Regions from separate parts of the Homo sapiens genome. Here all the other regions are reported to be linked to region 2. The links are microRNA targets in miRTarBase. Many come from high-throughput screens and were not tested one by one. Region 2 holds a microRNA gene; each other region holds the end of a gene's coding sequence.

What was found. The annotated mature microRNA hsa-miR-3160-3p reads AGAGCUGAGACUAGAAAGCCCA and lies in region 2 at 2,591-2,612, shown strand. An mRNA with a match to its seed (bases 2 to 7 or 8) in the 3' UTR can be bound and repressed. Matches are read on the target gene's strand: a 7mer-m8 pairs with bases 2 to 8, a 7mer-A1 pairs with bases 2 to 7 and ends in A, and an 8mer does both.
Region 1: the mRNA of GTF3C4 is a reported target of hsa-miR-3160-3p. Seed matches in the 3' UTR shown: 7mer-A1 at 2,940-2,946.
Region 3: the mRNA of ATP8B2 is a reported target of hsa-miR-3160-3p. Seed matches in the 3' UTR shown: 8mer at 2,714-2,721 and 7mer-A1 at 2,492-2,498.

Annotation. Positions count from the first base shown.
Region 1 is chr9:132,688,592-132,692,816 of GRCh38, reverse strand. GTF3C4 (general transcription factor IIIC subunit 4) reads right to left here. Exons shown (of 5, transcript NM_012204.4): 5 at 1-3,936. The coding sequence ends at 3,872. Among named protein-coding and RNA genes, the nearest start is that of GTF3C4, 20 kb to the right of the region's middle.
Region 2 is chr11:46,449,268-46,453,498 of GRCh38, forward strand. It overlaps MIR3160-2 (microRNA 3160-2), which reads left to right and starts at 2,540; the gene lies at 2,540-2,620. The region is part of intron 11 of AMBRA1 (autophagy and beclin 1 regulator 1); the gene reads right to left. MIR3160-1 (microRNA 3160-1) reads right to left here and starts at 2,622; the gene lies at 2,538-2,622.
Region 3 is chr1:154,348,631-154,352,861 of GRCh38, reverse strand. It overlaps ATP8B2 (ATPase phospholipid transporting 8B2), which reads right to left. Exons shown (of 28, transcript NM_001370597.1): 28 at 1,558-4,022. The coding sequence ends at 3,744. Among named protein-coding and RNA genes, the nearest start is that of ATP8B2, 25 kb to the right of the region's middle. RefSeq lists enhancers at 2,564-3,547, 3,548-4,231.

The DNA of each region.
Region 1 (4,225 bases), not on the chromosome of region 2:
TACTTGCACTAATGGCAAAAATAAAAACAGTTCATTACAGTTAGATCCTTTAGAGGGATTTTTGATGACCCAACCTTGAAGGCAAAGGTTCCATTCTTGAGACACTCCCCAGTCTCACTGAATTGCTAAACTCCAACGCACAGAAGAGCAGTGAAAGAGCATAAAGATACATCATAATGAATTATGGAAACCATGCAGAGACTCAAAACAGTCCATGGTGGGCTAATTGTAAAGACATTCCTGTATTTGTCTGCCTATTTGCCGTCTGTACTTACTTTGAATATAACCCATTCAGCTTAGCTTAACCATAATTTTTGCTTATGAAGAATATTGGCTGGGGGTGGGAGTGAGGGGAAACAGGTGGTGGGAAGGAGCTAAAATTTCACATCCCTTAGCCCAAAGTCAAACCAAGAGCTACTGAGCACCCTGACAAGGAAATTATAGTTAAGTTTTGAAGAAAACCAGATACAATTAATACTATTACCTTTAGAAAGAAATATTACCAATAGTTTCTTCTAGGAAGTGAGACCCCACTGTACAATTTAGCTTTTAGAAATTTTACCATTAATCCATTTTTCTTTCCAACATGTAATCTGTGTTCTAAAGCAGAGGGAACTAAAGGAATGGAAACCAAGAGGGTGTCTGGGGGAAGGAAAGGCAAGAGAGAGAGGTCAGGAGCAGAAACGATGGAAAGATCCTGTGCCAATCAACCAGTGACCCTAATTCCTGTTTCCATTCCAGGAATTGCAGCAATTCACAAACTCTGAGGCAGTTTAACTGTTGCAGAGAAAAGATGCTCATAAAACCAGTATTGTAATTCTCTTAAGCACCAATAAGCATCAACTTCTTTTGCATCTTATTTGATACCATTATAATTACAAAATAATTGAAATATTTAATTATTGCCTTTTAATATTCTTTTTAACCTAATTAACGTGTTAAACTTGCTGGTAGGTCCAGCCTGCATACTTCAACATTAACATTCTCAAAAACTTCTTAGAGGGAAAAGCAGAAAAATGTCATATTCAACCATGAGCTTTGCCAGTGGCTCTAATAACTTCTGACATTGAAAAATAATTGGTAGTTTTGGCAGATATAATAGTAGGTAGAGATTGCTTGAAGTCTGCCTGGTGGACACACAGGGATTTCAGAATGAGTACCAAGCATAACAAGCTATCAATTTCTTACCTAGAATAATAAGAACAAATTAACCCCAGGCAGAGAAAATGTGATACCTATGTGGGTATCAGACTCCCCAAATGCAACCACGTTGTAGCTTAAAGGGTCTAATTGTATCGAATCTTTGCTCCTGTGCTTTACATGCAGCGCGGCAATAGCACTTCCACTATTTCTCCAGTTCCTGAAACAGTTATTACGGTCACAGCTGAAAGCAACTTGAAATCTACCAAATAAGATCAGGCAAATTTTAGGACGGTATAGAGGATGTAAGTTTGAATTGCAAGAGGCACCTGAAAAACGTCTGGTGCCATTCCCACTTTTCCAAGGTTGCACTGAGCAACACACTCCCATGAGGTATGCTGACCCTCAGAGAAATTCAGAAGCACTATTTGTGAGGCTGCCATTAACTCAAAATCTCCTGTTTCCCCAGCTCTGTAGCTTAACCTCCATGGGTGTGAGACAGGGACAAGGGCAGGGAAAGGCCTTCCAACTGGGTGTGTGGAAACCTGGGGGAGGCAGGTGGTGGCTAGATTTTAGGGTCTTAACAATGCCATTGGGTCCAGTCCCTGCAGTGAGTCCACGTTCTAGAAAAACTGTTGCCATGTTTACTCCTAGAGAGACATACAAAAAAATTTGGGAGATCCTCTCTAGTTACTCCCAATACATTTTCTCAAAAATGCACAACTGCTTTAAATAAAAACCTAAGTTTTAAATGGCAGCAGTCCAAAATTCCCTAGTAAGAACAAATCTCCACTGATTCTAATGGGGGGAGGGGAAGTGAAACTATGCCATAATGATTAAAACTGCAATAATTTTTTGACATGATCTCAATTTTTACTCTTATTTATTGTAAAGTGAAAAAACAGCTGCAGACACAAATGACTTCCACCATACAATGTTCTGAATTCTGTTACTCATGATTTCAATGCTGCTTGGTTTCTTTCTTGAAAATCAATAGTGGATAAACGCTCTTCTTGAAATTACCACCAAATGAGAAAAATAAGCAGAATAGCAAATACATGATTAAACATAGGAGACAAAACAGCAATTTGAATAGGAAACAGAAAACATTTCTGAGCAGACTGTTTAGAAGTGCCTCCAAGGGCTGGTCTGCACTACCTATCAATGCGGGGTGGGGGTGGGGAGGTTGCCGTCATGGTATCATCTAAGTACCAACATTTTTTTTCTTTTTTTTTTGAGGCAGTCTCCAGTCTTGCCCAGGCTGAAGTGCAGTGGTGCCACCTCGGCTGACTGCAGCTTCTGCCTCCTGGGTTGAAGTGATGCTCCTGCCTCAGCCTCCTGAGTAACTGAGATTACAGGCATGCGCCACCATGCCAGGCTAACTTTTGTATTTGTAGTAGAGACGGAGTCTCGCCATATTGCCCAGGCTGGTCTCGAACTCCTGGCCTCAAGTGACCCGTCTGCCTCGGCCTCCCAAAGTGCTGGGATTACAGGTGTGCACCACCACGCCTGGCTAATTTTTGTATTTTTAGTAGAGACACGGTTTCACCATGTTGGTTAGGCTGAACTCCTGACCTTGTGATCTGCCTGCCTTTGCTTCCCAAAGTGTTGAGAGTACAGGCATGAGCCACCAAGCCCAGCCCCATCTGAGACATCTTAACAGACCACTGGGTGGGTAGGGGTTGGGGGCAGAACCTGGATTCCAAATATCAAGGGACTGTGCAGAGGAAAGAAATTCCCAGGCTCTGTTCAACTTAATTGCACAAGCTTACAGCACCAGAGCTCAAGGGTCTCACTTCTGAGCTGTCCCTCTCTAGAAGTCTCCAGACAGACCCCTGGATACTAAATGAAACATCTGGAAATGTCAACATTAAAAATACTGAAAGTCTTATTACTAAAAGAGGAAAATATCTTTTTTTCCTCTGTGTACAAATAGCTCATCTAGGCTACCACAGTTAAGTCTGAAGCAGGGCTGTGGCGTGGGTGAACTACAGTATTTGACATCTTTATACGGATTAAGGAGTTGGGTCAGGAAACCTGATGACCCAGGAGAGAATGAAAAATAAGTCACAATTATTCATTATAATAGTCACCAGATCATTTGACACATTAAATTTTAGTCTTGGCTTCAACTTAAGAATATAGAGTTTTAGGAAAATGTTTTCCATATGCATAAAAAACAAGAATGGAGGGATGCAGACCAGCAGCTATTTTCTGAGAACAAAACATCAGCCCATGTGTTGCTTTACACTTTTAATCTCTGTTGGTACATCAGATGCCACGGACCAAGCAATTTAAGTTCTGGAGCCCGAAGGCAGTTCCAAACCAAAGCAAGGATTAAAACCTAACTCAACCCAGCAAGGTCCTTATCCAAGCTCTCTAGAAGAGACCATTCTGTTTCTAGAAATGACGGGACACTGTGTTCAAATTGCTTCTGTCAAGATACTTAAAAATAAGTAAGTGTTCCTCATTGGTTACAAAGCTGGGGCTAATGCTCATCTCAAAACGACTCCAACTCTCTGAGTCCAGCCATTTCAAAGGACATCCTTTAGTCTCTGGAAATGGAGAGTGCGATTCAGAAATGAGCTCCAGGGGCCCTCTTTACAATCACCAAGGACTTCTCTCCACTCGTGAGGGTCCGGCTTCCTCCAGTGCATCCTTCTCTTCAGGCTGGAGGAAGTTTTCTATGGCAGAGTTCATCATGCCCTTCCATCTTCCCGTCACTGATTATTTAGAAGACAGGAGAATCACAGAAAGGGCAGGGGCTTTGCAGTAACCTCTTAATCCAGTCGGGATCTGCAAAAGGAGGACAAGTGGTATCAACTGTTAGCTTCGGAAAAGACAGTCAAAAGGGATGAATACCGGACTGTAGCGTTGAGAGACGGGCATTCTGGTCCCACCTCTGCAATAAACCAGCTACATATCCCTAGACAAAGCACTTCACTTCTTTGGGCTTCGGTTTCTATCATTCCAAATGAGGCTGGACTAAACTTGTGGTTCACAAAGTTAAATGTAATGAAACAGGAAAATAAGGGTAATGAAGAATGTTTCATAAAGCTAAATTTATTCAATTTAAAGAAAGGAG
Region 2 (4,231 bases):
ATGACATCACTGTCTAATCCCAAAGAATCAACAAAAAAACTCCAGTAACTATTAAATAATTATAGCAAGGTTTCAAGATACAAGGTCAACTGCTTTCCTATATTGCAGCAATGAACAAATGAATGACTGGAACTTGAAATTAAAAATACACCACCACTTACATTAGCATCAAAAAAATAAACTTAGGTATAAATCTAACAAAATATGTACAAGGTCTATAGGAGGAAAGCTACAAAACTGATGAAAGACATCACAAAGGATAAAACTAAATTAGCGAGATATTCCATGTTCATGAATAGGAAGGCTCAGTACTGTTACAATGTCAATTCTTCTCAGCTGGATCTACAGATTCAACACAATCCCAATCAAAATCCTGAATTATTTTGTGAATATTAACAATCTGATTCTAAAGTTTATATGAAAGGGCAAAAGACCCAGAATAGCCAACACAATATGGAAGGAAAACACAAAATTGGAGGATTGACACAACCCAACTTCAAGACTTAATATAGGCCGGGCGCAGTGGCTCACGCCTGTAATCCCAGCACTTTGGGAGGCCAAGGCAGGTGGATCATGAGGTCAGGAGTTTAAGACCAGCCTGACCAACATAGTGAAATCCCATCTCTACTAAAAATACAAAAATTAGCGGGGCGTGGTGGCGCATATCTGTAATCCCAGCTATTCAGGAGGCTGAAGCAGGAGAATCGCTTGAACACAGTAGGTGGAGCTTGCAGTGAGTCGAGATCACGCCACTGCACTCCAGCCTGGGCAACAGAGCGAGACTGTCTCAAAAAAAAAAAAAAAAACAACTAATGTCCACACAAACACCTACACATGGATATTTATAGCAGCTTTATTTATTTATTCATAATTGTCAAAACTTGGAAGCAACCAAGATGTTCTTCATTTAAGAGATGAATGGATAAACTGTGGCACATCCATACAATGGAATATTATTCATGCTAAAAGAAATGAGCTATCAATCCACAAAAAGACATGGAGGAACCTTAAGTGCATGTTACTAAATGAAAGAAGTCAAAGGCTACATACTATAGGATTCCAACTGTATGAGATTCTGGAAAAGGAAAAGTTATAGAGACAGAAAAATGATGGGTAGTTGGTAGGGGTTGGTTTGCAGGGAGGCAGAGACGAACAGGTGAGCACAAGATTTTTTTTTTTTTTCTTTTCTTGAGAGAGGGTCTCACTCCATTGCCCAGGCTGGAGTGCAGTGGTGCAATCACGGCTCACGGAAGCCTCAATTTTCTGGGCTCAGATGATCCTCCCACCTCAGCCTCCCGAGTAGCTGGGGCTACAGGTGTGTGCCACCATGACCAGCTGATTTTTTTTGTATTTTTTGTAGAGATGGGGTTTCACCATGTTGCCCAGCCTTGTCTCCAACTCCTGAACTCAAGAGATCCACCTGCCTTGGCCTCCCAAAGTGTTGGGATTATAGGCATGAGCCACCATGTACAGCCACAAGGAGATTTTTTAAGCAGTAAAGTTATTTTCTATGTTACTACAATGTTGGATACATGGCACATACATTTGCCAAAACCAGTGAAATTTACAACACCAAGCATGAACCCTAATGTAAACGCATACTTTGAGTGATAATGATGTGTCTACGTTGGTTCATCAGCTGCAGCAAATGTACCACACTGGTGTGGACAGTGGGGAAGCCTGTGGGTGTAAGGGGAGGGAGTATATGGGAACTGTCTGTATTTTCCACTCAACTTTTAATAAACCTAAAAAAGAGGGAGGGGCCACGACTTTCATTCACATTCTAGGAGACAGTGGGAACAGCAGCTGTTCATAAGGACAATACTAGTCATGGTAGTTCATATCTATCATATAACCACAGAAATTCCTTTCATTGAGGCTTAGAGCAAAAGAAGAAATAAAGATTATTCTGATGACAGACAAAACAAGGAGGAAAAGAAGCTTAAATCCAGTGATCCTGGCTAACTATCAGCCAACAACAATGGCAAAAACTAAGCTGCCAAGTCTCATTCCAGAGTCAGGTCTTCAACTTGTAGGCCAGAGCTCCCAGAATGTGTCTAGGGATAAAATCATAATAATCATCACAGTCACATGATAGGTGAGCTCTGCCAAGCCTAATAGCCTCTGTGCATCTCTCTACCTTTGCTTCTCTCAGAAACTCTTCTCTTCTGTTGCTTGGAAAGAATTAGGAATCTTTTTTCAAAACAGCTTCACAGCTTCTCTCTAAGATTTGTTCTAGGAGAAGGGAAATGAAAAGTATGATTCAACAGTTCAGTGAAGATACTGAACAATGGGAATCATTAGCAAATCTATCAGAAAAGCTAATTCGGGGAAGGTAAAAAAGGGCAAGTTGCAAAGAAGGAAATGATTAAATTACATTTCAGTCCTGAAAAATCTGTTTAACTTGAGACTTTCTAATTCAGAATGGCCATCTCTGACTGTGTGCTGCTGGGAAGATGAAATAAGAATGGGGTTGGGGATGTAAACACTCATCATCCTGGAGACACAATTACTATCTTTCTGCTTGGCTGTTATATGAACCTGCCCTGGGCTTTCTAGTCTCAGCTCTCCTGACCAGCTGAGCTGGAGGAGAGCTGAGACTAGAAAGCCCAGGGCAGGTCCAACTGAAAAACTTATCAACTTTTCAAACAGATTGACAGTTGCTTTGGGCTGGAGGGATGTGAGAGAGGGAAAGGGGAAGTGACTGCTGATGTGTATGGGGTTTTTTAGGAGGTGATAAAGATGATATGAAATATCTAGATAGAGGTGATGACTGCACAACTCTATATACTAAAAGCCATTGAAATGTATACTTTAAATAGGTGGCCTGTATGGTAGGTGAATCATATCTCAATAATGCTGTTATTAAGAAAACACTATTCAAATAAATGTCTATCAATTTGTGAAGTAAAAAATGGTAATCCTATTTTTTGGATCCATTTCATTTCCTTAATAATTAAGAGTATTGGTGAACATCTTTTCATTTGTTTACCAGCTCACTGTGTATCTTTTAGATGGTCTACTAGTGTCTTATGTACATTTTAAAAACCTTTGTTATTTTAAGGTTTTTTGTTGTTGTTGTTGTTGTTGTTTGTTTTTTAGATGGGGCCTCACTATGTTGCCCGGCTTGCCTTGAACTCCTGGCCCTTAAGTGATCCTCCTGCCTCAGACTTCCCAGTAACTAGGACAACAGGCACATGCTACCCTACCTAGCTTTGGTTACTTTAACTTTTCTCTTATGGATTATCTGAGCTCTCTGTAAATAAATACACTGGCTTCTGTTTACAAAAAATAATTCTCAGAGCAAGGGAACCATCTTCCCTTTCTGAGTATATCTGCATGGCATCCTAGGAAGAACACTTAATCTTCTTTCCAGAAAGCTTCATTCAAATGCAGTCTTAAAATCTGTCCTAAGAAAGGGGTATAACTAAGTACTCAGTCACACTCACTCTAATCATCATTTAATCTAATCTGAAATCACAGTCAATGTATCCTATAGCCTGGTACCTGGAAAAAGTCCCTGATGACAAATAAGAAGACTTCTTCCATGCTTAGAAGTGTCCCAAGTTTCTCTGAGTTCTCATTTATGATTCTGACATTGAGAAAAATGCCCAAATATATATGTGTGTCTGTCTGTTTAAAATTATAGCTTTACTGAGATATAACTTACAATTCACCTATTTTAAAGTATACAATTCAAGGTTATTAGCATATCCGCACAGTTATGTAACCATCAGCAAATAAATTTTACAACCACCATCATTACTGTCTAATTTCAGGCATTTTCATCTCCCCTAAATACCGTACCCATTAACAGTCACTCCCTTTTACTCTGTCCCACTCCTGCCCTAGCCCTAGGCAATCACTAATTGCTTCTCCTGGACATTTCATGTAATGAAATCATATGGTAGGTGGCCTTCTGTGTCTGGCTTCTTTCACTCAGCATAACATTTTCAAAGTTTATCCACGCTTATTGCATGTTTCAGTACTTCACTTTTTTTTTTTTCTTCCCCAAAGAGACAAGGTCTCATTCTATCACCCAGGCTGGAATGTAGTGGTGCAATCACAGCTCACTGCAGCCTTGAACTACTGGGCTCAAGCAATCCACCCACCTCAGCATCCCTAGTAGCTGGGATTACAGGCACGAGCCACTCTGCCTGGCTTCATTCCTTTTTATGACTGAATAATATTCTATCATATGTTTATAACTGAACCATAGGTTCATATGAGA
Region 3 (4,231 bases), not on the chromosome of region 2:
CGGCAGTGGGCGCCCATGGGTGTGTGCTGCTTTAGTGGAGTGGAGAGGAACGCCCTTGGAGATAAGCAGGCTCAGTGGAACAAAGCTGCGGTATCGGACAGACTTCACCTCCACGCACTCAGAAAAGGCACTAGGACGATGGGGACCTAGGGGCTGGAAGCCACTCCCACAGGAGCCCAGGTGCTCAGTCAGCGCAGGGAAGGAAGACCAGGGATGCCTGCGGCAGAGGGGAGAAAACGGGGAGCCCGAGTGCCCGGAGCCTCCGTGGAGGCGTGTGTCTATATCGCGACGGAGAAAACGCGTCCCCAAGAGGCAATGAAAGTTAAAATGACATTGGCCCTGCCCCTCAGACACACATAATAGGATCCTGGGTGCAGGAGAGCCAGGGTCAGCGAGAGGAGCCAAGGAAGACATTCCCAGTGGCTGAACAGACCCCCAACGGGAGGCCAGCGCAGTGCTGAAGACCTGTCTTGTGGGAGGGGTGGACTTGGGGCCTCACCAGCCTCAAGGGATTAAGGCTTCTTTCTGTGTTTCGGGGGTGGGGGCACTGAAGCCAGATGCCACTTGCTGCCCAAAGCTCAGGGTTCCAGACAGACCCCAAAGAAAGGCTTGTGTGGACTGGACAGCCTCTCCCTGGGTGGAGGTGGGTGTCAGGTGGTGTTCCTGGCGGTCTGTGGCGGGATTCCCGCCAGGGGCCGTTTCTCCTGAAGAGGGAAACAGATCTTATCTTCACATCTTCCCCCCATACACCCTCCGCTCCCCCACCCTTTTTTTTTTTTTTTTTAATACAGGCGGGGTCTCCCCATGTTGCCCAGGCTGGTCTTGAACTCCTGGGCTGGGCTCAAGTGATCCTCCTGCCTCAGCCTCGCAAAATGCTGGGATTACAGGCATTGAGCCACCACACCCAGTCTACGTTTTTGAGAAGGATTGTTCCATAACTGAAGACTGGCTGGGTCAGGGGGAAATTAGCCTGCGGGTGGGGCTGGATCATGCTGATATTGGCCATCGGCGGAGGAAGCTATACTTCTTTCTCCTCAGGCCAGCACTAACCCTGGCCCTGACTCCTAGGACCCCATCCTCATCCGCCCTCCCTTCCCTGGAGGAAAGCTCCCTTTAATATAAGACTTTAGCTTCCTTGATACTCACTTGAGAAGCCAGGAAGATGTGAGGCATGCGGAAAAGCGCAGAGTTAAAAAACAAAACCTTACAATATTTACCAGGTACTTTCCCTACACACACATCCATCTGGCGTGTGTTAGGGATGACAGGTTGGCCTGCGTTTGGAGAAAGGTAAACAGCTCAAGGTCCTAGGCACCCAGCCAAAGTCCATACGATATGCCGCTCAGTACCACCCACTGCCCCGTCTTCATCTTCAGCTGAAACTCAGATCCCGGGAGGTCTGCAAATGGATGAGGTGCTATCCCACACCAGTCAGATTCCAATTTGTCCAAGATATCCCAGATCTACCCACTCAATTACATTTAAGAGACAGTTTCTGTCTTTACTTTCACCACCAGTCTTGGTTAAACATCAGAAAAGAGACAAATTACACACTTCTCAGAAATTGAAATTTTATAAAAAGGCATTTTTCTCTTATATCCATAAAATGATATAATTTTTGCAAGTATAGAAATGTGTCATAAATTATAATGTTCCTTAATTACAGCTCAATGCAACTTGGTACTTTCTTCCCTCCCTAAAAAACGAGAGAGAACCAAAAAATAATATATATATATATAACTGTATATATATATTTATATAATATAGACAAACAAAATATGAAAAAAAATCATTTCCTCTTTGGTATAAAAATCAGACTCTCACCTTGAGAGACACACAGACAGACATGATACTGGGTTTGTAAACTGTGTGGCCAAAAGGGATTTCCCTGCCAAGACTTCCCCTCTCCCATTCCCTGCCCACCCGCCCCCACCTCACTGCAGCCCATCCAGTTCCTTTGGGGCTCCCATATGGAACATTTAAAATCCCCCTACCCACTCCCAGCTCCAAACCATTCCTGAAGAATCCCCCGACCCACTATCAAAGAAGAGGAAAGGATTCTTCTCAAGGCTGATTAGGTAGCGACTAACTTGGGAAATGCCTTATTTAGGGAATAGCTTCATAGGTGTGGATGAAGTAAAGGACAGGCTGTGGCCAAACTCTGACAGTGTCCCATCCAGACCAAGCCAGGCACTGGCCTGGGCCTGGTTTTGCCCTTATCCTCCTCTACTACCCGGCACAAGGATTCCACCACCTCTTGCCAGAGGCTGGGCCTGAGGGGCGGGGCTCCTTGCTTACTGAAGAAGGGAGCAGAGAGGCCAATTCCCGTTCCAGCCTCATCTCAGGTGCACAGCTTCCCCCTGCAGCCCCACCACAGGGCCCTGGGGTGTAGATGCAAGAAAGCACCAGATGGGGAGGCAAAGGGAGGTCAAAAGGGAGTCTGCCAATAAACTTGGGTTTAAATTTAAAATTAAAGAAAACTACGCCTCCCTGAGCTGGGTGTGGTGGCTCACGCCTGTAATCTCAGCACTTTGGGAGGTTGAGGTGGGCAGGTCAGGAGGTCAGGAATTCAAGACTAGCCTGGCCAACATGGTGAAACATCTCTACTAAAAATACAAAAATTAACCAAGCGTGGTGGTGTGTGCCTGTAATCCCAGCTACTCAGGAGGCTGAGGCAGGAGAATCGCTTGAACCCAGGAGGTGGAGGTTGCAGTGAGCTGAGATTGTGCCATTGCACTCTTGCCTAGGTGACAAGAGTGAGACTCCATCTCAAAAAAAAAAAGAAAAAAAGAAAAAGAAAAAAGAAAAGAAAACTACCCCTCCCCACTGACCAAATTTCAGACCCAGCTTTAGCTCACTAAGGATTTGGGGGCCACTTTCCTAGGCTCCAGCCCAAGGCCAGCAGGACTAAGGAATCCAGGAATTGATATGTGTGTGTGTTGGGGGCAGAGGGCAGCACTTTACTCTCAAGGTGAGGAAGCAGACAGGACCAAACCCTCCTTTACACTCTCCCACTACCCTCTGCTCATGGGTACCTCCCTCCCTGGTCAGCTCCTCTGCCCCACAGAGCACTGGTCACTGCAGGCAGAGCCGACATGGATCCTCCCAAACCACCCCACAGCCGGCCAGGCTGCGGCATCCCAGTGTGTGCCAGCCTCCTTTTCCCAGGAGAGTTAAGACACCAACCACAACATAAAAGTCACATAAAAGCCTCCTCCACTTGCCAAATAAAAAAAGACAAAACCAAACTGGACACAACACAAATCAAGGAGAGACATACACGATGTGAGGGGCCGAGGCCCCTGCAGGTCTCTGGCTTCCCGGCATGGTACATTCTTATGTAATTCAGGAACAGAGGCACTAGGGCCCCTCTGGGGAGTAGGAGTAAAAAAATAAGGAGATTATAGTCTCCCTGTGGGTCCCAGGCAGGGCAGGGGCAGACACAATCTCTCACAGTTTTTTCTTGTTTTTGGTTCCACTTCTGGTCCCCGAGTGGGGCTGGCTCCCCGTGCCTCAGCCTCTGCTCTGCCCTTGGGCCTGCTCCCTCTAGCTCCCCAGCTGGTGGAAGGGCCTACAGCTGGGAACAGATGTCCCAGCCATGTGTGGTGGGACCAGCAGGACAGAGTCTACCGGGGGGACGGGAAGCAAGGAATGAGGACCAGCAGTTCCGAGACGCTGTTCCCTCAGTGACTGGCCAGCCCTGGGTGCTCTGGTCACTGGCACAGGGCATCCATCCTCGGCCTTCAGCCCTTGAGGGGCTTGTCGGCACCGCCACTGGGGCTACTGGCACTGTCACTCTTCTTCCTGCGCAGGCTCTCAATCCAGCTGGAGCTGGAGCGGGTGGTGAAGCTGGAGAGCGCGAGAGAGCTCAGCCGCATGTTCTTGCCAGACATGATGAGCTCCCCGAAGCCCTCCTGATGGGAGAAGGCATAGCCGGAGCGCCGGGAGCCAGTGCGGCCAACCCGCCGCATGCAGCGGTGCTGGGCCTTCTGCTTCTTCCTCACGAGCTGTGTGTAGCGGACCTGCAGAGGGGCACAGGGAAGAGCCCTCTGTCAGCGTGGAGGTGTCAGATATCGCCAAGGAGAAGGGACCCACAGCACCCGGGACCAGGCTGACACAGAGGCCTCCGACCCACAGCACCTGGGACCAGGCTGACGCAGAGGCCTCTGTGGCCAGCTGCACAGGGTGTCTGTCCCCAGGAAGAACAGATAAGCACCAACACACTGAACAG